3 separate regions of the Homo sapiens genome follow, and regions 2 and 3 are each linked to region 1. The links come from fine-mapping of genetic effects on gene expression. A gene starts in region 1. Each other region holds a variant in brackets. All regions are shown on one strand. Distances are from middle to middle.

Region 1 (8,177 bases):
CTCCCTCCTCACCTGCTCGGGCCCTGCCTGCTGGGCCCTATTGTCTGGGTCTGGGGGCCCTTTCCTGCCCCATGTGAACTTGATTCCTCCTCGCGTTTCTGCCGGTGACCAGACAGAGCCTGGCCTGGGCCAAGTCCCCACTGACCACACTTTCCCCAAGGCTGGGTCTCAAAGGACCCTACAGGATGGGGACAGGAACAAGGATGGGAGTCGGGGAGGGGCTGTCAGGCAGAGGGCAGATGCAGCTCCTCGGGTGCCGCTGGCTGGAGTCCTTTGTCTCCATTTGCTCAGTGCGTAATTGTCATTTTGTGGGGGACTTCCTTGGTGGGGCTTTTCCATGCTTTTCCTCTCCCTGATGGTTACAAAGAGGAGACAGTCAGGATCTGGGAGGAGCTGGAGCCTTCCCCCTGTGCTGTTGAACTCTGGGAGGGGCAGCCAGAGGGGCTGAGAGTGCACCATCCTGAAAAGAGAGGGTCTTTAAGAGATAAGATTTAGGCTAGGGAAATTCACTAGAAAGAGACAGGTGGCCCTGGGTTTTTTTTCCTGCCATCCAAAGGGAACCAGTCTTACCCAAAGGCTTAAGGGGTCACCTTAGCCCAGTCTCAGGACACTCTTCTCCAATCAGATCGCTGCTTCTAGTTGCACTGCTCCTGGATTCTGTTCTTGGGGAACAGAAGGTGGCAGGACAGGCCCCACAATCTGCAATTCCAGCTCCCTCCAGAGGAGACAGTCCCAGCGTTTGCAAGAGAGCAGCTTGTGGCCTCCCTTAGGCAAGTTTAAAAGCCAGATGTCCTTTTTCCCAGAATGCGGAGTGGTGTGTACTATTCATCAGCTTGGGCTGCCACAGCACCATGCCAGACTGGATGGCTTAAACATCAGGAATTTATTTTCTGCCAGTTCTGGAGGCTGGAAAGTCCAGATCAAGGTGTTAAGACTTGGTTTCTGGTGAGGCCTCTCTCCTTGGCTTGCAGGTGGCACCTTCTCACTATGTCCTCACATGGCCTTTTCTCTGTGGAGAGGGACAGAGAGCATGAGCAGGCTCTGGTGTCTCCTCCTCTTCTTATAAAGACACTAATATCACCATATTAGGGCTTAAACCTATGACCTCATTTAACCTTAACCCCTTAAAGGTCCCATCTCCAAAAACAGTCACATAGCAGGCTACTGCTTCAACATATGCATTTGGGGGAGGGGACACCATTCAGTTCTTAACAGGGTGGTCACCGCAAACATGGAAAGTCAGAGCCTTCTCCCCTTCAGAATTCCCGCCCCCACCCAGGGATGGGGAGGAGGAGCAGAGAGGTATGGGAAGCAGACACGGAGAGTGGCAGGTACCATGCTGGGGTGGCTCAGGAGTGCTTCGGAGGACATATGGAACTGGCAGGGCTCAGTGCAGGGAGGCGGAGGCCCTGGGAGAGCCGTGTCCTGAGAAGGGCCTGGGCTACAACCCTGGGCAAGTTACTTCACCTCTGAGCCTCCGATGCTCTGTGAAATGGAAGGAATGTGCTTGCCTGTCAGGTGCAGGGAGAATTCAGTGAGATTGTGTGCCTAGCACAGTGCCTGACTCCCAGTAGGTGCTCAGCAAATGCTCCCATCCATCTGGGAGTATAGACTTAGGGTTTATCTATTTTTTTTTTTTTTTGGCTCTCTGGACTTTAAAACTCAGCATCTTCTGAACCAGAGGCATTTCTGATTAGCCCTTCCCTACCTATTTTCCTAGTATCACTCTTTAATCAGCTTGGGGAGGTGGCAGCATTTCATGGCCTCCGTAGTAACTCACAATGCTTCCTGGGGTATTTAAATTCTACTCTCTCATCAGCACTGAGCACCTACTTTGGGCCCTTTCCCGTGCTAGCCATTTGGGGGAAATATAGGTGAAGAGTGGCTGGGGTTTGAACCTTTAGGATTTCACAGCCATGCTGGATGGGATAAAACCAGCTCACATGGAGAATCAGAGAATGGGACAGTGCCACAAAACAGTCTACTGAGGCACAAGTTCTGAGTGCCTGGGAAGTGGTAGAGAGACCCCAGAGAGGGCTGCTGCAGTCTGGAACAGCTTCCTAGCAAGCTGTACCAAACAGGGCCTTGAAGGATGAGAAAGATCTGGCTGAGATGATACCCGACCCTCTAGGGAAATTCTTAAAGTAACTTCTAGGAAATGTCATTGCTCCTTAAAAAAAAAAAAAAAAAAAAAAAAGCAGGTTCTAATTCAAATTCCGCTGCACTACTGAAGTAGTGCAGGACTTATCAGAACCTTTAAAATGCTAATGGCAATTTCAAATACTCAGGGACAGGGCATAGGATGAAGTGTTCCTTGACTTTTATGGCCGTAGAATCTTTTTCTCATGGAACATCGTTTAGAACTGTGGGAGATGCTAGGCTGGGGTTTCTATGGGAAAAGTACAGCAGTGATAGAAGATGGCATAATTAGGGTACACTTAGGTGCTTTGTAGCATTGGCTGAAAAGGAAGCAGACCGGGTGGGCGTGGGGGAGTCTCAACTTGGTTCCAGGAGCCAGGCCAGCTTGATGCGTTTTTTTTTTTTCTAATGGTGGGAGGGCAGGCCAATAGTTGGAGAAACTAGAGGCCTGACAGTCGGTGATGGAAGAGATGTCTACTAAGCACGGTTGTCAGATCTTTTGCGGAGAGATGCGGGTGTGCGTGTGTCTGTCAGAGTGTAACAGGATCCAGCCCTCTGGGAAGGGGCTGACCAGAACCAGGCAGGGGGTTTCTGTCTAGGACAAGTAGGGTCCATTTTCAGGGGAGCTGAAATATTTGCAGGGGGTGCTCTGAGACCCACAGCCAATAAATAGGGAAGCAACATGCTTTTGGGCAGGGTCCATGTGGTTAGGGTTGATTTTGATGGGGCTGGGGGGCTTAGAGTTAGACCCCCTGCCCTGGTCAGGCCCCACTCCCTGGCTGGTGGGGGCGGGAGGCCTCTGAAGCTGCAGCTGGAGGGGCCGGGGCAGTGTTGCATGGTGTGATTAACCTACTAACCCAGGGCTCAGCCGGGACGCTGTGGCGTGTGACGAGGTGCCTGGCCTTCTGCCAACCAACTAACCCACTAACCAGGCCCGAGCATGCCCTACTAACCACCCCCCCGCAGCCAGATCCTACTAACTGTGCAGCTCATGGGCCTTTCAAGGGGCTGGGATATGGGGGCAGCCAAGGCTCCAGAAGGCTCTGCCTATGGGCTGGGATCTTTGTGCAGACCCACGTTCCAGGACAGAGAATGCAAATAAGACTCACCAACTCTGCCACTTCCTGTTGAGTGAGTTTGAGTAAGTCACCTCACTTCTCTCAACCTCAGTTTCCTCAGTGGTAGAATGCGAGTTCTGATACCTTACAGGTTGCAGTGAGGATTCCCGTCAATATAAGGGTCTCAGCACATGGCAGACACCTAAAAAAAAAAAAAGTATGAGGATGGAGGAAGGCCCCTCAAACCTGGTTGAACACGTCTGCTGCCTAGGCCCTGGCCTCTCTGGGTGTTCTGCACACAGATCCTTCTGCCTGGGGCAAGACACTTGGCTTTGAATCCATGTCACTTCCCCACATTCTTCCTCCGTCTCAGCTTTCTTTTCTGTAGGCAGCTCTTTTGTTCGATTACTAACCCGTCTAACCCCTGGGGTGCCTCAACTGCACCCCGATCATCCCTTAACAAACTAACGGACCTGCGTGCGTTCTTCCTTTTCTCTTAGCGACTCCTGTGTGTGTCTGCTGAGGTGCCCTGTCCGCTGGTGCTGTGCTCTGACTTACTAACCCAGCCCCTACTAACCCTGTTTTCTCTTCTTACTAACCCCAGCCCTGCCGAGCTCTGGGCTCCCCCCGGGGGCTGGTCCCCCTCCTTTTGGCAAGCAGATGACCTGGGGCTACTGGCCCTGTAGACAGATGTCCCACTTTGCTGCCCCATATTGGCTGTAAGATCAGAGTCCACTGGGCCAGGTCTAAGGCAGGGGATGGCCCTATTAACAAGACTCAGAGGAGGAAGAGGTGGTCCTGTGGATGTGGGAGGCTGGACTCTGAGTATGACATCTCTCCTATGTGCAGAAGTCTGGTTGCCACTGGGAGTAGGTGGGACCAGGGAAATCTCTGGGACGTGAGTGTGGAGGCCTGTTGGTCTAGACTCTAGACTGTGGAGCTCTGAGCTTTTGTGTCCTCTGGAAGGAAGCTGGGGAAGAATCCTCTCCATTGTTAAGTGACGGGGATAGAAGCTGTCCTGCACAGGAAGTCACGAGGGGGGCGTATCCCACGAGGAAGGCAGGAGGGGGCGTGCCCCTCACCGGAAATTAGCAGAGGGGCGTGTCCCACACCGGAAGTCAGAAAGCGGAGCCTTTCTTACACCGGAAGTCAATGAAGCGGGTCTTTCCTACGCTAAAAACCACTGAGTGGAGTATTTAGTACACAGGAAGTCGGCCAGAGAAACATTTCTCATATTTGAAGGCCGGAAAGAGGGACATTTCTGACACCGGAAGTCAGTGAGAGGACTCTTTCCCACACAGGAAGTCAGCTAGAGAGCCGTCTCCCCTCTCTGGAGCCGAGAGAGGCCGGTTTCCCCCACCGTAAGTAGACGTGGGGCCGTGACCGGAAGTCCTTGGGAAAGATCCGTCCCATTCCCGGAAGCTAGAGGGCGTTAGTTGTCGGGTTGAAAAGGGGTGTGGGGAGGGGAAGCAGCTTTACCCCGGGCTCGGAGTTTGCAGGAGAGAGAAGTGGGGAGCAAGAAGTGAACCTCAGGGGCTCACAGGGTTCCCGCAGATGCTCAGGCCGGCCAGGAATGCATCTCTGGCTCTCTGTTCCCACGGACGTCACTGCCTCAGCCAGCCTCCCCCAGAGCCCGCCAGCCGCTAAGCCGGGGCCACACCTGGGGGTGATTTCATGCCTCACCTCCAGTAGGCACCTTGGTTTCTTTGGGCTAATCTCTGGCTCCCTTGCGCTAACTCTTGCTCTCACCCAGCTAATCCCTGCCTCACCCTGACTGCCCCAGGGGCTGACCACTAACAACCAACCTGGCCCTGTCTGGGGGTTCCAGGCTCCTGGCCTGGCCCTGACCGGTTCTTAATTAACCTTTCCTTCACCTTGACTAACTCCTGCCTTCCTGGTCTGTTCCTTTCAGCAGAAACTAATGGTTTGTGGATTTTTTTCTGACTAACAACAGGTCTAACATTCCTCGTTACTGTTAACAGCTTGGATGTCGGCATGGCTGGGAAGGGGCTAACACAGCTTTGAACTTGGCTAACACAGGTTTGAACTTGGCTAACACAGGTTTGAACTTGACTAACACAGGGAAAAGCATAGCTAACAATTTTGGGCGTGGTGGCTGCTCTGAGTCAGAACAATCAGAAGTCGGTAAAGATGGTAGTTTTCTAAAGGAGGTGCCAGGGCTCTGGTGTGGACCAGGCCTGATGGAGCAGTGGTACCCACCAAGGTGGGGTCAGAAGTATAGCCAGTCTTGCAAGGTTTTGGCCATTGGGCATATCTTCACTCCTCATAGTCTGCATTTGGTTTCAGTTCTTAAAAAAATATAGCCTTATAGCTACAGTAGTTTGCACAAGTAGATGCAGCTCTTATAAACCTTAAAATACCTGTCTGGTGTCTACAGAGCATATGCCATTTTGTATAGAGTCACCCTTCCCCAGGCCAGGGCCTAGAGTCTTCATTTTGGGGACTTTGTGTTTTGGAAGTTCTAGGACATAAAGCTTTAGATCAGAGTATTCAGAAGGGTTATAACTCCGTCAGTCATTTACATGTTAGTAGTATAAATTATCTGAGCTTCCTGTTCTAACTTTTAGCTCTTCTAGCATAAACTCTTCTGTGCAATTTAGCTGCACCGAGGAAACGGGAGTTTTTCTGGAAGGGACTTTTGATCTCTTTAGACTGAGGGAACGTCCTTTGGGAGTAGAGGGGCAGGGAGCATACGCAAGGGATTCCAGGTGCAGGTAAAAGGTGGCACTAGTTCAAGGTTTTGCTGACTCAGTCTGGTAGTCAGAGTCTGCAGGAGAAGACAGTTCAAGGCAGGGCCTGGAGGATTGGATCAGTTTAGGGACAGGTCAAAGGCTGGCTTACAGACCTTAGAGGCAGGTTGCTTGGGTCGTTGAATGCTAGTCTGGTGCTGAGAGCCCTTTTCTCTGGCAACTGTGGACTCAGAGCTAACCAATTGTAGTTGGCAGTGGGGGTGAAGGGTGATCCAGAGGCCTGAGCTGCAGAGGGCACAAGAGAGAAAAGATGTCTTAGAAAGAGCTTTGAGAACATGCCTTGGCTGCTGGCAGGGACCTTGGATGGGGTAGTCTACACCCGGAAGTGCCTGCCTGCCATCCTCTAGTGGCTGCCTTGCTCCATTTCACTCAAAGCAGGAAGCTCACACCTCCTATTCCTGAAACTCCTCTTTGTTTAACTGCAAAGACTTGATGCTGCTAAGGATCTACTATGTGCCAGGCACTGCTCTGGGCGCTGGGACCTGCACCTGGGCTTTTTCGTCATGGTGCTTTTATAGCCTAGTGGGAGAGTTGGTGAAGTAGATAGTGATTCAGTGAGATGGGTGTTATGATTGGTCAGGGGTCTGTGGGAGCACCAAGGAGACAGACAAGATTGATGTGCACCTACTCTGTGCCAGGCGTGTGCCAGGCATTGGGGATGTAGTGGTAGTTAAACACCATTTGGTCTTCAGGAGCTTTAATTCTAGTGTGTTGGGTGCAGGGGGGTGGAATGGGGACAGAGAGACACCTAATCCACCCTGTGGTGGCTTTCTGGAGAGGGAGGCATCTAAGCTGAGCTGTGGCTGGGTGGAGTGTGGGTGGGGATGAGTTCCGGGCAGCGAGAGTGGTGGACACCAGTTTCTGGGGATCAGAGAGGATCCAAAGAGGTTCTGGAAGGTTCATGTGGAATGTAGCAAGAGATAGGAGACATGGACATGGTGCCGGGTCTGGTTGCCAAGAAGTTTAGATTTTATCCTTAGGCCTTGGGGAGCGACGGATATGATCTGAGAAAGGGAGTTAGTGGATTTGAGTTTTAGGCTGGCCATTTGGCTTTTCCAGCCCAGGTGGAACTCAGAGGAGTTTGCAATGGCCTCTGGCCACATTTTAGACAACTGAGCAGAACTTTTTGAAACTAGGAAGACCCTTTGGTCCATCTTTTGATAAACAGAATCCATACATGTCTACCCCAGTTGGAAGTATCTCTGCAATGACTGGAAAGTAAAGAGGACCAAGGTGAAAATAAAGGCTCGGAAGGGGAGCAATCTTGAAAACATGTCATCCCATGGTGGTGGGAAGTCCCTGGAGAAGATCAGGGGAAACACAGTCATAGGCTGCAAGTCTATAAGATAATTCCATTGGGGAGGGAGCCCATTTGTCATGCATGGCTGCAAGGGGCAGATACAAGTGTGGAGTAAGCTTGCAAGAGCTGATCCTGGTCCCAGAGAGGGAAAAATATGCCTTGGTGGGTAATGAACCTTTTGTTCCCAGAGGCAGAAGGATTGGGACTAGGCCAACATAGAGATTGGCGATGGTTGTGAGATTCTAAGAGTGTGTGTGCATCTTGACAATATTAGAGGAGGCTGAGCCCAAGCAGGCACATTCTCTTCGACCCCTCCCTCATTCAGTCTGCTTTGGAGTCTACTGAACATCAAGCTTGCTATGAGCAGGATCTTAGAGCTGAGGAATTGGCCTCCCAATCCGAACAGGTGTTATAATCCTTTCTTAATAGGTTGTGCTGTGGACCCAATGTGAGGGCTGTGCTGGTGTAAATGGTGACATGTTGAGCTGGGGGGATGCTTTCGGGGTGGGGGGACTGGTTCCATTCCATCAAAGGCCCTCTTGAGAGTCTATCCAGGGACCCATTGTTTTACTTTAACAGACCAGAAAAGATGTTTGTTTTCCATGTCATTACCCCCAGGGGATACCGAATGTGTGGGTAGAAATTTCTCTGTAGATTAAAAATCAGATTTTTACATGGATTCAACAAAGGAGCGTCACTTGGATTTTTGTTTTCATCCATGAATGTAGCTGCTTCTGTGTAAAATGCCATTTTGCTATTAAAAATCAATTCACGCTGGAAACATGACTGTGGCCTATGAAGCAGAAGGGACGTGCTGTTTAGGGGAGAGGGGGCAGCCAGTGGCATTCTCAAGGAGCAGGGGTGGGCTCTCTCGGTGAGTCAGCCTTTCCTCAAGAGTGACCCTAGAAG
Region 2 (8,177 bases), 23 kb after region 1:
CCTTCCTCTCTTTCATCTTCTGTTGTTGCTCTCCGTTGGCTGATCTTAACAAGAGGCTGGAGGAAGGGGCACAGCCTATTTATGCAGCCAGTAGAGACCAACTTCTTAGGGACTGGGTAGGTTGGAGGAGGATGGACAGTGGATCAAGAGGGGTAAATAGATGATACGCCGCACAAGCAACTTCTTAGAGTCACACACCTTCTAGTGTTAGAGTTCAGATTCAAATTCAAATCTCTTTAAAGTCAGATCATACCGTGCACCCTTCCGTTTCCTGACAATCTAACAATCCAGTGAGAGACACACTTATATTTCTACTTCGTAAAGGTCCAGAGAGGTTAAGTAAATAAACCAGAGTCACACAGCTAGCAAGTGGCAAAGCTGGGATTCTAATTCAATTCCAAAACTTGACTTCCAACCTCTCCACCTCCATCGACCCATATATATCCACTGACCAATCTATTCATTCATCAGACTTTTACTGCATGTCTTAAGCTATGCACTGTGTTCAGAGCGGAATGAGATTCCATTCTTTTCTTTTCTTTTCTTTTCTTTTCTTTTCTTTTCTTTTCTTTTCTTTTCTTTCTTTCTTTCTTTCTTTCTTTCTTTCTTTCTTTCTTTCTTTCTTTCTTTCTTTTTCTTTCTTTCTTTCTTTCTTTCATCTTTCCATCTTTTTTTTTTGTTGACAGATTCCAGATTCTCCCTCTGTTGCCCAGGCTGGCTGGAGTGGAGTGGCATGATCTTGGCTCACTGCAATCTCTGCCTCCCAAGTTCAAGCAATTCTCCTGCCTCAGCCTCCCGAGTAGCTGGGATTACAGGTGTCCACCACCATACCTGGCTAATTTTTATATTTTTAATAGAGACGGGGTTTCATCCTGTTGGCCAGGCTGGTCTTGAACTCCTGACCTCAGGTAGTTTGCTCGCCTCGGCCTCCCAAAGTGCTGAGATTATAGGTGTGAGCCACTATGCCTGGCCAAGATGCCATTCTTATGTCCTCATGTTATTTACAGTCTGATGAAAGAAACGGACCTGTATACAGATTATCGTGCAGTGGAGGGGAACAGGAGCTTTAAGAGAGGAAAGTATAGTGCTCATCGGTGGGCATGTGGGAGGGAGAGGTCTGCTCAACTGGGGGAGCCTGGAAAGGCAGCATCCTTTTAAGCTGGGTTTTGAAGGATGCATAAGATCCCAAGGGGATGGTGCATCTTGGGAAGGTATGCTCATATCTTTTTAACCCAGCTGCCTCTCCTTTGCTGGAGCTTCCTCCTTCCAGGGCATGATTTGGAAGGACAGAGTTTTACTGTTATTGAGGACACAGAGTTCTCTAAAGTGCATAGCCCAGGGGATGGAATGGAGCAGGGGATGTATGTATGTGTGGAAAAAATCCACCTTGGTTTGAATTCTTGTCTGGCCATTTCTGAAATACATGACCTTATGGGGACCCTTCCCTATGTGGTCATCTCTACAGGAGATTTCATATCCCTACCCAACTGGTGTCAGGTTGGCCAGGTGACTTTCAGCCAATGGGATGAAAGTGAGTGGAGGTGGTATGTGCCACTTTTTGGCAGACACTGTAAGAACCCTTGTGTGGTCACCTTTTCCCTTCCCTCTTTGTGACACTATGGTAATTTTTACTATTTCCTAAGTGTTGTGCTTCACCTTCCCTTTTTACCTTGGCCTTGAGACCATCAGGTTTCCATAAGGGAGTTGCTCCCTTTGCCTTCATCCTGGAATGAAGTGAGGAGGGGCAGAGCAAAAACAGAGCTACAAGGGTTTGTCAGATTGCAGAGGAATGAATGATTGCTATCTAAGCCACCGAGACCTTTGAAGGCACCTGTTAGCATCACATAGTGTAGCCTAAGATGACCAAAACAGCAAGGTGTGTTGCCTTTCTGTGTGTTAGTTTGCTCAACTGTAGAAGTGCATTGATAGTTGTAGTTACCTTATGGAGGTCTGGTGAAGATTAGGTGGAATTCCTAAGTAAAAGTGCAGTTTCTAGCCTATAGTGTGTCTACACTTCGCAAATGTCTAAGACTCTTCTTCCAGTTCCTTGTCTCTGCTGTACTTACTTCTACCCCAGGGCCTGTGCACATCCATGCTGTTCTCTTTGCCGGGGGTATTCTGTCTTTCCCTCGTTCCCTTCTTTACTCAAAATCCCATATGCAGACCTAGCTCCTCCAGGAGGTCAGCTAAGGATGGGCTTGGAGCTCAGGAAAGTCAGGTCATGAAAGGGATGAAAAAGGTTGCACTTCAACAACCAGAATCAGGAAATCTAGAAAACAGTTCCTTTAACATCAACATGCACACATATTTTGGGTTTTATGGTTTTGCATTGTTTTAATTTCAGTTTACATAGGAGATTGCAGAGGGGGCTCCCTCATCTTTTCTAAGCTTAAGGCTTCTGAAGATCTTTACCTGTTCCTGTCCACAGATAGCAGGGCTGGGAGAAAGGGATGGGGAGAGTCCCTCCTGCCACTGACCCAGGATGGATAAAAGTACCCCTTTCATAGAAGGAAGAAAATGGGAACAAAGGTGCTGCTGATCATCTGAGGTTGCCTGCATGGCAGTGAAGAACATGGACCTTTGGGTGAGGCTACCTGGATTTAATTGTTGGTTCTGCCATTTACCAGCTATATGAGCTTGGGTGTGTCATTCTTTACCACTGAGCCTCACTTTTTACATTCATAAAATGGGAATAATTATACCAGCTTGCTGGGTCATGGTGAGGACAACTAAGGCGAGTGCCCATAGTGAAGCCTATATAAAGATGGCTGATTGTTCGGTCATTCCTTATTTATTGAATGTCTGCTATGTGCCAAGTTCCATGAGAGGCACTGGAGATGCAGAGATGACCAGGACAGACTAGATCCTTGCTCTCAAGATTATGTATTTGTAAATAAACATATAATGAGTCAGATTGCAGCAAGGGATATGGAGAAAAAAGTCAGGGTAACTGTGGAAAGTAACGGTGGATCAGATTTTATTTTATTTGGACATAATTGACAAATAGATTGACCAATACCCAAATATAATTGGGTAATGTTTAAGGGGTACAACTTGATGCTGTAATATACATATATGTTGTGAAATGATCCTTATAGTCAAGCTATTTGACACGTTCATCGCCTCACATAATTGTCTTTTTTTGTGGTGAAACCTACCCTCTTAGCAAATTTCAAATATATATTATTAACTGTAATCATTATGCCATACATTAGATCTCCAGAACTCATCCATCTTGCTTAATTGAAACTTTGTACCCTTTGACCAACATCTCATTTCCCTGTCCCTCCAACCTCTGGCAACCAGTATTTTAGTCTATGTCTCTATGCTTTGACTCTTTTAGATTCCAAATATAGGTGAGGTCATACAGTATTTATCTTTCTGTGTCAGACAAATTCTGTTTTAGAAAGCGAATTCAGAAAAGACTTCTCTAAGGAGGTGACATTTGAACAGGGACCCATGCACCAACGCTACATAACAAATGGCCACAAACTGAAAGCAGCATATATTTATTATCTTACTGTGTCTGAGGGCCAAGAACCTAGGCTGTGTCCTCTGCTTCAGAATCTCCTCTAAAACCTATAGTCAAAGTATTGGTTGGGGCTGTAGCCTCACTTGAAACTCAACCGGGGAAGGATCCACTTCCAAACTCATGGGGTTGTTGGCAGAATTCAGTTCCTTGTGGGCTGTAAGACTGAGGGCCTCAGTTTCTTGCTGGCTATAAGATGGAAGCAGCCCTCACTGCCTGGCTGTTTGTTGGCCAGAGGCTACTGCACATGGCCCACCCCAGTGTGGCTGCTTGCTTCATCAAAGCCAGCAAGGAGAGTCTCCTAGCAAGATGGGCATTAATTACAGTCTTATATGATGTAGTCATGAGAGCAGCCTCCTGTCCCCTTTATTGTATTCTTTCCTCTGTGGGTTTTTTTTTTTTTTTTTGAGATGGAATAATCTTGCTGTGCCACTCAGGCTGGACTGCAGTGGTGCAATCACGGCTCACTGCAACCTCCACCTCCCGGGTTCAAGTGATTCTCC[T/C]GCCTCAGCCTCCTGAGTAACTGGGATTGCAGGCATGCACGACCACACTGGGCTAATTTTTTTGTATTTTTAGTAGACACAGGGTTTCACCATGCTGGCTAGGCTGGTCTCCAACTGCTGACCTCAAGTGATCTGCCTGCCTCAGCCTCCCAAAGTGCTGGGATTACAGGCATGAGTCACCATGCTGGGTCCTCTTTATTGTATTCTATTGATTAGAAGCAAGCTCTTGGTCCTGCCCATATGTAAGGGTGGAGGTTATACAAATGGGTAAATACTGAGAGGTGGGGGGCATTGGGAGCCCCTTTGAGTCTATCTGCCATGGCCTATGTGAGGTAGATGGAGTGAGCAGAGTGGAGACCTGACCTGCCAGGTAGAGGGAGACAGCAGGAGCAAAGGCCCTGAGGTGGGATCCTGCTTGATGTGTTCAAAGATCAGCAAGGAGCTGAATGAGAGAGGGGAGGATAACTCATGTAGGGCCTTGTAGGTAAGAGCTTGTCTTTTGGATTTTATTCTTGGGCGTGCTGAGGAGCTACTGGGTGGTTTCCCAGTCCATCTATTTATTTATGTTCCTAGATTTTAAGAGTTGTGGTGAAAGACACATAACCTAAAATTTGCCATTTTAACCTTTCTAAAGTGGACAATTCAGTGGCCTTTAGTCCATTCACAAGGTTGTATAAGCATCATCACTATCTGGTTCCAGAACATTTTCATTACCCTGAAAGGAAATCCCACAACTATTAGCAGTCACTCCCCCTTGCCTCCTTCCCGCAAAACCTAGGCAACCACTAATCAGCTTTCTGTCTCTATCAGTTTGACTATTCTGGGTATTTCATATAAATGGAATTGTACAATACATGCTTGGCTTCTTTCACTTAGCATGTTTTCAAGGTTCATCCATGTTGTCGCATGTATCAGTATTTCATTCTTTTTTTTTTTTGAGACAGAGTCTCGCTCTGTCGCCCAGGCTGGAGTGCAGTGGTGCGATCTCGGCTCACTGCAACCTCCGCCTCCTGGATTCACGCCATTCTCCTGCCTCAGCCTCCTGTGTAACTGGGACTACAGGCGCCTGCCACCACGCCCGGCTAATTTTTTATATTTTTAGTAGAGTTGGGGTTTCACCGTGTTAGCCAGGATGGTCTCGATCTCCTGAGCTCGTGATCCGCCTGCCTCAGCCTCCCAAAGCGCTGGGATTACAGGCGTGAGCCACCGCGCCCGGCCTATTTCATTCATTTTTATGGCTAAATAATATTTCATTGAATGTATATATCACATTTTACTTATCCACTCATCTGTTGATGGATATTGGAGTTTCCAACTTTTGGCCACTGTGAATAATGCTGCCACGAACATTGGTATACTAGTATCTGTTTGAACACTTGTTTTTAGTTCTTTTGGGTATATACCTACACACACATGTGTTGAATTGCTGGTAGGTTTAAGTCATTGAGAAACTGTCAACCATCTTTTAAAGTGGCTGCACCATTTTATATTTCTACCAGCAGTGTATAAAAGTTCCAGTTTTTCCACATCCTTGCCAATACTTGCTATTATCGTTTTTTTTTTAATTATAGCTATTCATAAGGGTGCAAAGTGAGATTTTACTGTGGTTTTGATTTGCATTTTTCTGATGAATGACATTGAGCATCTTTTCATGCGCTTGTTGGCCGTTTGCATATCTTCTTTGGAGAAATGTCTCTTCGGGTCCTCCGCCCATTAAAAAAATGGGGTTGTTTGTCTTTTAGTTGTTGAGTTGTAAGAGTTCTTCATATCGATTTATTTTTATTGAGCTATTATCACCGCTGTGGTTGTTTCCTCAGTAGGGCTCTGTCTGAATCCCCAGGCATCATGAATGTCCTCTGCTTAGAAGGAAAGGGACTATAAATGCCCCTTCTCTTGAGTAACCCACTCACCGACTTGTCTGCATCAACTTCCCTCCAGAGAGCAGAGCTAATAATCCCCTTTCTCACTGGCCTCAGCCCTCCTTGAAAATTACTCTGAAGGCTCCCTGGAGTCCTCTTACCTAAATGCCTCCCCCGGGGCTGCTTAGATGGCTTTGTGGGGGGCTCTCCAGCTGGGAGAAGGAGATTCTCTGGGGAAGAGCACAGGCTTCCAGCTCCCTAGACCTGTCTCACCTTCCACCCCTGGTGGGTTAGAGACTCTGGGGACTCTAGGATGAGCCCAGGGTTCTGCCTGCATCAGGCCTGTTTAGCCTCTGGCTTGTTGCTGAGGCTTAGGGACAAATTAGGAACTTAATCCAGCCAGGAAAACTTGTAAGCACTGTGCAAGGAGTCAGAGAGAGCCCTGTGGCTTCTGGTCTGTGGTCCGCCACCATGAGACTGGGGTCCCTGGACCTCATCTCTGAAATGGGCTTGCACCTGTGTTGGAAGGAGCCCGTTTGAACCTTTCAGATTCAGGATTTTGTGATGGGCTTAAAAAATATTTTATTTAGAATATCTCCTCCTCTAAGAAGCTCATATCCCTCTAATTGCATTAGGTGACTGCGCAGCTACCTGAACTTATTCTGTCTCAGGTGTATCTTTTTGGTTGTGATTACTTCTTTATACATCTCTTACTCTTATTTGATTGCCAGAGGGTGAAGCTGATCATTTCAGTTTTTCTTAGAATTCTTTGAGGATTTCCCATTGCCTTAGGGTGAAGACCAGATCCTTACCTGGATGGGTTTTCATTGTCTCTCTCCTTTTTCTTTTTTCTTAGATGGAGTTTTGTTCTTGTTGCCCAGGCTGGAGTGCAATGGCATGAACTCAGCTCACTGCAACCGCTATCTTCTGGGTTCAAACAGTTCTCCTGCCTTGGCCTCCTGAGTAGCTAGGATTACAGCCGCCCACCATGCCCGACTAATTTTTTTGTATTTTTAGTAGAGTTGGGGTTTCACCATGTTGGCCAGGCTGGTCTCGAATTCCTGACCTCAGTTGATCCACCCGCCTCGACCTCCCAAAGTGCTGGGATTACAGGCATGAGCCACCGCACCTGGCAATTGTCTCCTTTTTCACTGTCACTTTGCATGGCACTACCCGTTGATCTCTCTAGTCCAGCCAAAAGGGTTGCCTTTGGGTCCTTGGTGCGTCCTACCACAGGGCCTTTGCACATGCTGTTCTCATTACTTGGATGCCTTTTCTTTCCCTCCTCATCTTCTTTACTTCTTCTTTAGATTTTAGTGCAAGCTTCACTTCTTTAGGGAAGCCTTCCTGGATTCCCCAGATTAATTCAAATTCACGTTATCAGCTCTGTGGACCTCCCCTCAGAAGATACTATGTTACCTTCATTTTAGGATAAATAATTGTTTCACCTTATTTACAAAAGAATCTGAGAGCAGGGACTCTGAAAGCAGGGACTCTGAGAGCAGGGATCATGCCTGTTTGTCCTCCATTGTAGCCCCAGTGCCTCGCCCAGTTCCTGGAGGAGAGTAGGTGTTAAATAAACCTGTGTTGAATGGCAAACAAATCTCTGTGCTATCGGAGTCTAGGTCAGGGCCTGGCATGTAGCAGGCACAAAACACCTGGTTCCATTTTTGTTGAATACATGAATGGTTTCTCTGAAATGTGGTGGATCCAACCTCTGCTTCTGTGTGGCCTCAACTGCATGTGCACTGGGACAGACAGATCTGTGTTGGAATGCGGGCTCCTTTATCTTCCAGCTGTTACCTTGGGTGCATCTTTTCCTTCTTGGAGCCCTTTTCTTGGTCTGTTCACAGGGGATCTTCATTAGGAGGTGCTGAAGGGATTTCACGGCTAATGGTTTTGTAGGCCCTCTGTTAACTGAAGCCCTTTGCAAATGCCCTTGAAGAAATGCTGTTTCTCCCAACATCTTCCACGGAGATTGGTGCTCAGACCAAGGTGGGTGCAGAGCTGATGTCTCCTCCTCTACCAGTGGTGCTTGAAAAATGGTGGCATGAGGCTGAATTTCCCCATGCTCTGAATGACTGGGGAGAGTGGCCACAAATCTGAACAGCCCAGATGTAATTTCTGACTCTGGGCACCTGTGTCTTGCAGAAGGGAGGAAGGTGGACAGATTTAGCTGCAGGATGCACAGTGCGCTGCTTGGGTCCTGTCTCCCTGCTTTATGGGTGCAAAAGGTGAGGCATGGTCATACTACATGCAGCCCCTGCTCTCCCCAACTGTGGGTTG
Region 3 (8,177 bases), 78 kb after region 1:
TGAGGCTCAGAGAGGTTAAGTGACTTGCCCAAAGCCACACAGCTTAAACCCAAGGCTAGTTGACTTTGAAGCCCATACTTCAAACACACCCTCTCTGTATCTTTATCTTATTTAGAAGGTAAAACAGCCACAGGACCTTTTCAATGACAATTCCTTGCCATTTTCCTCCCAGGGTCACCTTCCAGCCGCAAAGCCACAACACTCCCACTTCCTTTGCCTCCCTTGGCTCTCACAGAGCTTGGCTAAATCCAGTGCTAAGACTGAGTTGTCAAACAGGAGATAGAAAGAGAGAAAAAGCAATTTCTTCCATTTCTTGGCTCAATCCTATGCAGTCAATACTGTTAACAGTAAATCAAATAACAAGACTGCATTGACCCAGGAAAAGGCCAAGAAGAAAAAAATTCAGAGCAGAATCCAAAAAAGTAGAAAATAAAGTTCGGCCATAGGCATAAATCATACCTGGAGAACTGAGCCCACAGCACCAGCCTCAGGATGAGCCTGAGCTGCCCCCGAAAGCTGGGTCCCAAAGACCCCTGCTTTTGACTTTCAACTTTCTAGGACCCCTGTTTCTGGTAGATCCAGGGGAAAGGAGATCGCTCAGGGACGGGTTGAGGATATCTGATTTGCGGTCCCTCTGATTTGGGATGTCACTCCTCAACCCTGGGCTGAACTGGGAAAGGGGATCTGCAGAAAATGACTTTGGGAGAAAGTCCCCTTTGACTGCTCCCCTAACCCCTGCATTCCTTCTGGCATGCTGATCTTTTCAAGTTTCACAGTGCTGGATGCCGGCTCCAAAAAGAAAGAGGTTCACATGCTCTAAAAAGTATTCAATCTTGTCTGAGCCATGTTGCTGCCTGAACTATGGCTTCTTTAAATTAATGGAGTCATTCAACAAACATTTATGAAGCACCCACTGTATGCCAGGCATTGTTCTAAGGCCTTGGGGATTTAGCTGGGAACAAAATAGACACACATTCCTCACTTCACTGAAGCTACATCCTAGTGAGTGGTGGAAGATGATAAAACAAGGTTTGTATACTATGTTGGACAGTAATAGATGCTATGAGGAAACAAAGAAGGTAAAATGGGTTTCGTGTGTTTGTTGGGGATGGGGAGAGTCCAGTTTAGTTAAGGAAAAGAGACATTTGAGCAAAGACTTCAAAGGAGGCGAGGATGTGAGCCGTGGGGGTATCTGGGAGAAGGGTGTTTCAGGGACAGGGATCAGCAGGTGCAAAGGCTCTGAGGCAGGACGTGCTGGGGGCCTTTTGAAAAAAAGTGAGATATTACTGGAGGAAGTGAAGGGAGAGGGTGGCAGATGGTGAGGTCCAAGTTGGAGAGGTGACCAAGGGACCAGATTCTGTAGGGCCTCTGGGTGGATGCAGGGACTTTGGCTTTCCTCTAGGTGAAGTGTGGATTGTTGGGAAATTTGGAGCTGCAAAGGGACCTAATCTATTGGGTTTTAGCAATAAATGTTTACTTGTCAGTTTCTTCAGCCATGTGCTCTGACTAGTTAAGGTCATTAAAAAAATAGATGGAATTGCATGGGAATTTGTACATCCCTGAGAAGCACTCTCTGTGAAAATAACCTCCGATGCCCTGGCACATTCTTGGCTCTCAATAAATGCTCAAACATATTATTTGACCATAGAGAGAGGTCAGGATGGATGTTCAACAAAGAGTTAATGGTGCTTCCTTGGGAGAGTAGCTGGAATGAGTGTGGCAAGTAAAGGTTAATTATCTCTTTTATTTCTCTTTGTATTCATCAGATTGTTTTTTCAATTTTTATAGCTTTTTTGTTTTTTGAGATGGAATCTCACTCTGTTGGCCAGACTGGAGTGCAGTGGCGCAATCTCGGCTCACTGCAACCTCTGCCTCTCAGGTTCAAGTGATTCTCCTGCCTCAGCCTCCCAAGTAGCCGGGACTATAGGGGAGCACCACCACGCCCACCTAATTTTTGTATTTTTTGGTAGAGACGGGGTTTCACCATATAGGACAGTCTGGTCTCGAACTCCTGACCTCGTGATCTGTCCACCTCGGCCTCCCAAAGTGCTGGGATTACAGGCATGAGCCATTGTGCCTGGCCTATAGCTTTTTTTTTTTTTAAGGCAAGTTGAATGGGTGGGTGAAGACTAGGAGCTCTGTTTTGAGTTCTGTGACCTTGGTTCTGCCACTTGTGATTCTGAGCATTCATTTGCTCATATTTTTCACGAGTTAAAACTCTAAACTCTAATAGCTGCTTATGAAGTTTTAGGGGGGATAACAATGTAAATGGAATACGTTGTTCAGTGCCTGGCATAGAAATCAACGCTGATTTTAGTTTGCAAGGAGCCATGTAAGGTTTTTAAGGAGAGAAGTGAAGGCAAAAGATCTGGGTTTTAGAAAAAAGGATCACAGGGGTGTCCGTGCTAGTCTCCAACTACTGCTCTGAGCAAGCTTGGCCTCCTCCCTCTCCCTGGGCAGCTAGGGGCAGCTGGCCATTCCTTCTCCCCTTGATTTCCCTACCCCAGCCTAGTCTTCTCCACCCTTCCTGGGGAAAGCCAACCCCTTGCCTGGCAGGCCTCCCGGCAACCAAAGGACTTCTTTGAGGGAAGAAGCCACGTTACCCAGAAAAAATCAATAGAATCTTTTTCCAGGCAAATTTCAGAGACTTGTGAGAAGCAGCAGCAGCCTGGGAACTTGTCTCCCATTCAGCGTAGGAACCTCTTGCACAGCATTTGGCTATGAGGCCCTCAAAGTGGACACGTGTTCGTATCTCCTTTTCAGCAACTGCCCCGCTTTCTGGTAACAGCATGCCATCTTCCTTGAAAAGCCACCCTTGGCCATGCCAAGCCCAACAACATGGGTAGAGGTGACTCCTTCTCCTCCCTCACTGGAGGTAGGCATGGCCAGTGAACCAGGTCTGAGCCAATCGAGTACTGCTGCCCTCAGCCTACAGTGATTGATTCAGAGATGAGACTCAAGGAGGGCCAGCCGCAGGATTTTGGTTCAGTCTGATGATGTAACAGTCAGAGTGGACTGTGATATGCTGCAATATAACTAATACCTCCTAAATTCTCAGTTACAGTGACTCAGGTTTTTAAAAATTTTTTTTATTAATTTATTAATTTTATTTTTTATTTCAATTGGTTTTTGGGGAGCAGATGGTGTTTGGTTACATGAATAAGTTTTTAATGGTGATTTCTGAGATTTTGGTGCACCCCTCACCCCAGCAGTCTACATTATACCCAATGTGTAGTCTTTTATCCCTCACCCCCTCCCACCCTTTCCCGTGAGTCCGCAAAATTCATTCTGTCATTTTTATCCCTTTGTGTCCTCAAAGCTAACCTATCACTTGTAAGTGTGGAATGTTTGGTTTCCCATTCCTGAGTTACTTCACTTAGAATAATGGTCTCAAATGCCATCCAGGTTGCTGTGAATGCTTCGATTTTATTCCTGTTTATGGCCGAGTAGTATTCCATGGTGTATATATATCTATATATCACCTTTTCTTTATCCGCTCGTTGATTGATGGTCATTTGGGCTAGTTCCATATTTTTGCAATTGCGAATTGTGCTGCTATAAACATGTGTGGGCAAATATCTTTTTTGTATGATGACTTTCTTTTCCTCTGGCTAGATACCCAGTAGTAGGATTGCTGGATCAAATAGTAGCT[C/G]TACTTTTAGTTCTTTAAGGAATCTAGTGGCTCAGGTTTATTTTTTATTTTTTATTTTCTTATTTTTTATTTTTAGATGGAGTCTTGCTCTGCCGCCCAGGCTGGAGTGCAGTGGCACAATCTCAGCTCACTGCAACCTCCACCTTCCGGGTTCAAGCAATTCTCCTGCCTCAGCCTACCGAGTAGCTGGGACTACAGGTGTGCACCACCACGCCTGGCTAATTTTTTTTTTTTTTAATTCTAGTAAAGATGGGGTTTCACCATGTTGGCCAGGTTGGTCTCAAACTCCTGACCTCAGGTGATCCACCTACCTTGGCCTCCCAAAGTGCTGGGATTATAGGCATGAGCCACCGTGCCCAGCCTGGCTCAGGTTTTAATGGCACAGAGCAGCCAAGATTGATTTGCTGCTTGTGCTCTGTGTGCACGGTGTACGCCTCCGGGAAAAACCAAAGGGCAAAAACCAAGTCTTCACCAACCAAGCTGGTGGAGGCTCTGCTCCACATCCTTCTCATCCACAGACTCAGGCTGATGGAGACTCTATCACCTGGAACATCATCAGTTACCACCACAGGGGGGAAGGGAACGTGGAATCAGATGAGTCTGATGTCAAATCCTGACTTTGCTGTTTAAAGCAAGGGACATGCCTGACCTGCTGGGTCCATAGTTACTGCTTAGCTCCGAGAGTATTGATTTTCCCCCTGTCCAATGTCTTCAACCCTATTCATTGTGTATTCAACCAGGATTTTCAAGGCTTGACTCAAACACCTGCCATTCAGAGATTCCTTCTCAAACTCATCTCATGGCCAGCACCTCTCCGTCATCTTAGCACAGAGGGAAGCACAAAGTAGGGGCTGTGCTCAGTGCCCTGTCAGTGTCTAGCAAAGGCCTAAGCACTCAGTAGGTGCTATGCTCAGTGTCACCCAAGGTGCTTTGCAGTGTCAGGCACAATAGTGGATGTTATTCTCTGTACCATCGGCAATGCCCATCCCAGTACCAAGCACATAGTGTGCTCTTTCTTTGCTGTTTCCTTTCCCTGAGTGTTTCTAGCAGTGTGTCTCCAGGAAGTTATGCCCCAAGACACTTCCTCCAGGTCCTCAGCCTCTTGCACGTTGGGACTTGGAATGTGCCACCTGGAGCTGCTATCAGGGTGCAGTCGGCTGAAATAGGTGGGGTGAGGCAAGCAGTCCTTGAAAAGATGGTCCAGGGCTGTCCTTCCCTGTGGGGGTCATCTGGGGTCAGTGAGCAGCGACTTGGCTTATGCATTTCCTCCCAGGGCCCCAGACAAAGAGAGAGTCCTTGGCAATGCGGTTACCTTGACAACTCTTTGTGTTGGAGAGTGAGAGAGAGAGGGGGAGGAAGGCAGCTCAGGGAAGCGGGGTGGCTGCTGGGGGAGGGGGAAGGAGCAGGGAGGAGCTGGAGGAGAAATCCACCTTTAAAAGGGAAGAGAGAAATGACTCCACTTCTGGGCAGAGGGAAGGAAGTGTCTTTATGGTGCAGGATGGAGGCTGGTCTGGGTGGGACATCCTGCCTCTCCTTCTCACCCCATCTAGAAATTCTGCCAGCAGTCTTAACATCCAGAGAACTAGGTCTGAGTCCCAGCCCTTCTTCTAACTTTCTATGTGACTTTGTGCAAGTTACTTTCCCTCCCTGAATCTGAATTTCCTCTTGTATAAAATAGGGATAATAATCCACAAGGTGACTGTGAGCATTAGCTGAGCATTTCAGGTAAATGAATAGTAGTGGGCCCCTAGTGAGTGTTAACTCCCTGGGGGCCATTATTCATTTGGTATTTTCTTAGTGGTAACCTGGGCTTAGTCAAGTGACTCCCTCACCTTGGTCAGTCTCTTTACCCAAAAAGATTGTAGAATTTCTATGGAACTTGCCAGAAGCTAAGTGGGTGCTGCTGGTAGCTATGGTTACTGATGTTCCTGCCAGACTCTTGACATTGGTGGTGGGGGTGGGGGTGTCAACATTACTGGAATTATTAATTCAGAATATTATGGGTCATCATTGTGCAGAGGAGACCGATGCTCAGAGAGGGGTGGGGAGTCTGAGGTGTGCTTGAGGAAGAGACCTGGGAGAGGTGACCAGTGTGGGGGACACTATGTTGCCCAGCCCTCTGCATTCTGTGTCCGAGGGCCCCCCAGAGCCCCAGGACTTATCCTGACCCACCCCCCCAACCCTGTGTCATGCAAGCCCAAAAGCCAGCGTCTCTTCCTGGCTGCCCAGGACTGCTGAGATGCAGGAAGGTGGGCATCTGAGGTGTCAGTGGGAGACTGTTGGGGGTAGGGGTGGGAACCCTGGCTTCCTGAGAGCAGGAATGGTGGACATGTGGGACCCTTCTGCTGGGGTGGGGCCGGGTGCAGTTCCTCTCCTGCCTGAGGCACCCCATTCCATCACTTGCTGAGGCCTGAGCCCTTCAGCCACCATCTGGGGGATGCAGTCACAGCGGGAGATCGTGCTCCCCACTGTAAGTTGGCAGCCTGTTTATCAGTCTGGCCTAAGAGGTGCAGCTTTCCGAGTGATTTCCCAGATCCTGATCCACCCCAGAAAATGAGCACATGGAGTCTCGACACTCCCTGGGACCTCACTTAGCTCCCCAGAGCCCTTCTGTCTGTCTGTCCATCTCTCTCCTGCTTTAAGGAGTTGTCCTGTCCCTGGGCAGACAGACTCCCAGGATCTGCTGGGAAAGACCCGTTGGGCTCTGACCCCAAATGGTTTCTGATTGCTGGAGGGATGCACCTCTTAACAGCTATGTTCTATGCATGTTACCCGGGGGCAGGGGCAAACAGGAAGTGCTTCTGGTGTTCAGAGGGCTGGAGGAGTGAAGGGTGGGGGGCTGCCTGGAGGAGGTGGCATGCTTCTGGAACAGATGAAAGAAAACAGTAAGTGTCAGAGCCAGGTCCTTTCAGGACACTGTTAGTGGTGGACAGTGATGATCTCCATTTTACAGATGAGCAAACTGGGGCTCAGAGACATTAGGGACCTGATCCAGGTGGTCCAGAGGCCAAAGAGGCCAGGTTTGAAGCTGGGTCTGTTTGATCCAAACCTGGGGCTTGTTTCGTTGTGCCCTGGTGCAGCCCAAGATGCGCATGTCCAGGCGGAAGATGTAGCCAGGTTAGCGTAACATTGGGGATTCAGGAGGAGCCTGGTTAAGGGGAGTAGAGGGCATGAGAGGAGCGATACTAGCCAGGAGGGGGCAGATGGGAGAAGAGTTTGTATTTAATGCTGCTGGAAATCTGATGATGCCACTCCACTTGCATAAAACCCTCGGTGGCTCCCCAATACCCTTGCAAAAGCCATAAATCCTCACTAGGGCTTCAAGATCCACCTTGGCCCTGCTTCCCTCAGCAGCCTCATCTCTCCCTGTGCTGGCACATGCTCACTTCATCCCCTGCAGGTCCTCAGTCTCACTCTGGGACCTTTGCCTACCAACCCCTTCTCTCTGGAGTGTTCTGCCCCACTCCCCTGGATGACTCACCCCCCACTCATTCTCCTCATCTCCACCTAAATGTCACCTCCTCCAGGAAGACTTCCTTGATCTCCTGAGTGCTCGCAGCCCCCTCGGCTTTCCTGTCACTCCGATCTAATTATTATATCTTTAGTGTCTGTTCCATACCCCCTGCCTGCCCCCACCTTAGTCTGTGAGCCCCATGAAGGGCAAAAACCAAGTCTGTTTATCACTGGATCCTTAGTGCCAAGAATGAATGGTGCCGGCACATAGCAGATACCCAACTGAAATTTATTGAATAAATGCATGAATAAAGAATGAATGAGGTAAGAAACCAGTGAAATTTTAGGTAGGAAGAGTAAATTGACAGAAATTGGCTGGTCGTGGTGCAGGATCAGGGCAAAAGGAATACTGATTCAGACAGAATGTCACCCCACTGTGCCTCAAGCCCCCAAAGTGCCCCCGATTTCATCCCACTTCCTCTGTCCTTTGCGTGGAGGTGGGGAGGGGACTCAGCCGGGGCCCTGAAGACATCCCTGCCTTACTCCTCCCTCCCTTTCCCCCAGCCTCCACCTGTGGACTGGAACTCCAGGTACCTTAGAGGCACTCCTCAGCCCTGCAGCTTGCCAGGGGCACTGATTTCTGGAGAAAATCTTAATGGAAATCTCTCCAGCTATTTTTCTCTCTATGAGGAATTAGCAACCACAAAGTGCTGTTTTGCAAATGGTGGCCCTAAGAAGCTGCTTTCTCAGGGCTTCGGTGATCACCAGGAAGACCATCAGTTATTGAGCACCTGCTGTGTGCATTTTCCAGGAAGACCATCAGTTATTGAGCACCTGCTGTGTGCATTTTCCATGAACAGTTTCTGTTCTTTACCACCATCTTGTGTGGTTGGAAATTTCATTCTCTCCACTTTAGGAATGGAGGGAATTGGAACTCAGAGAGAAGAGATTTGCTGAGGTCATTCACTGGAGAAGGTTGGAAACCGTGTTCATGTCAAGGTCTGTCTCTGAAGTCCTTGAGTAACTTCAGGGTGGGCACCGGATCCAGCTGCTGTGGTTCAGGTGCGATTCC

What was found.
Region 2: its variant is fine-mapped to the expression of MIATNB in whole blood (TOPMed, PIP above 0.99).
Region 3: its variant is fine-mapped to the expression of MIATNB in whole blood (INTERVAL, PIP 0.97).

What each region holds. Positions count from the first base shown.
Region 1 is chr22:26,668,430-26,676,606 of GRCh38, forward strand. It overlaps MIATNB (MIAT neighbor), which reads left to right and starts at 4,414. Exons shown (of 6, transcript NR_110543.1): 1 at 4,414-4,558. MIAT (myocardial infarction associated transcript) reads left to right here. Exons shown (of 5, transcript NR_033320.3): 5 at 1-8,049. RefSeq lists enhancers at 1-147, 148-730.
Region 2 is chr22:26,691,253-26,699,429 of GRCh38, forward strand. The region is part of intron 1 of MIATNB (MIAT neighbor); the gene reads left to right. Among named protein-coding and RNA genes, the nearest start is that of MIATNB, 22 kb to the left of the region's middle. The variant T/C (reference allele first, on the strand shown) is at 4,033.
Region 3 is chr22:26,746,495-26,754,671 of GRCh38, forward strand. All of the region lies in intron 2 of MIATNB (MIAT neighbor), which reads left to right. Among named protein-coding and RNA genes, the nearest start is that of MIATNB, 78 kb to the left of the region's middle. RefSeq lists enhancers at 4,520-5,517, 5,518-6,516, 6,517-7,514. The variant C/G (reference allele first, on the strand shown) is at 3,653.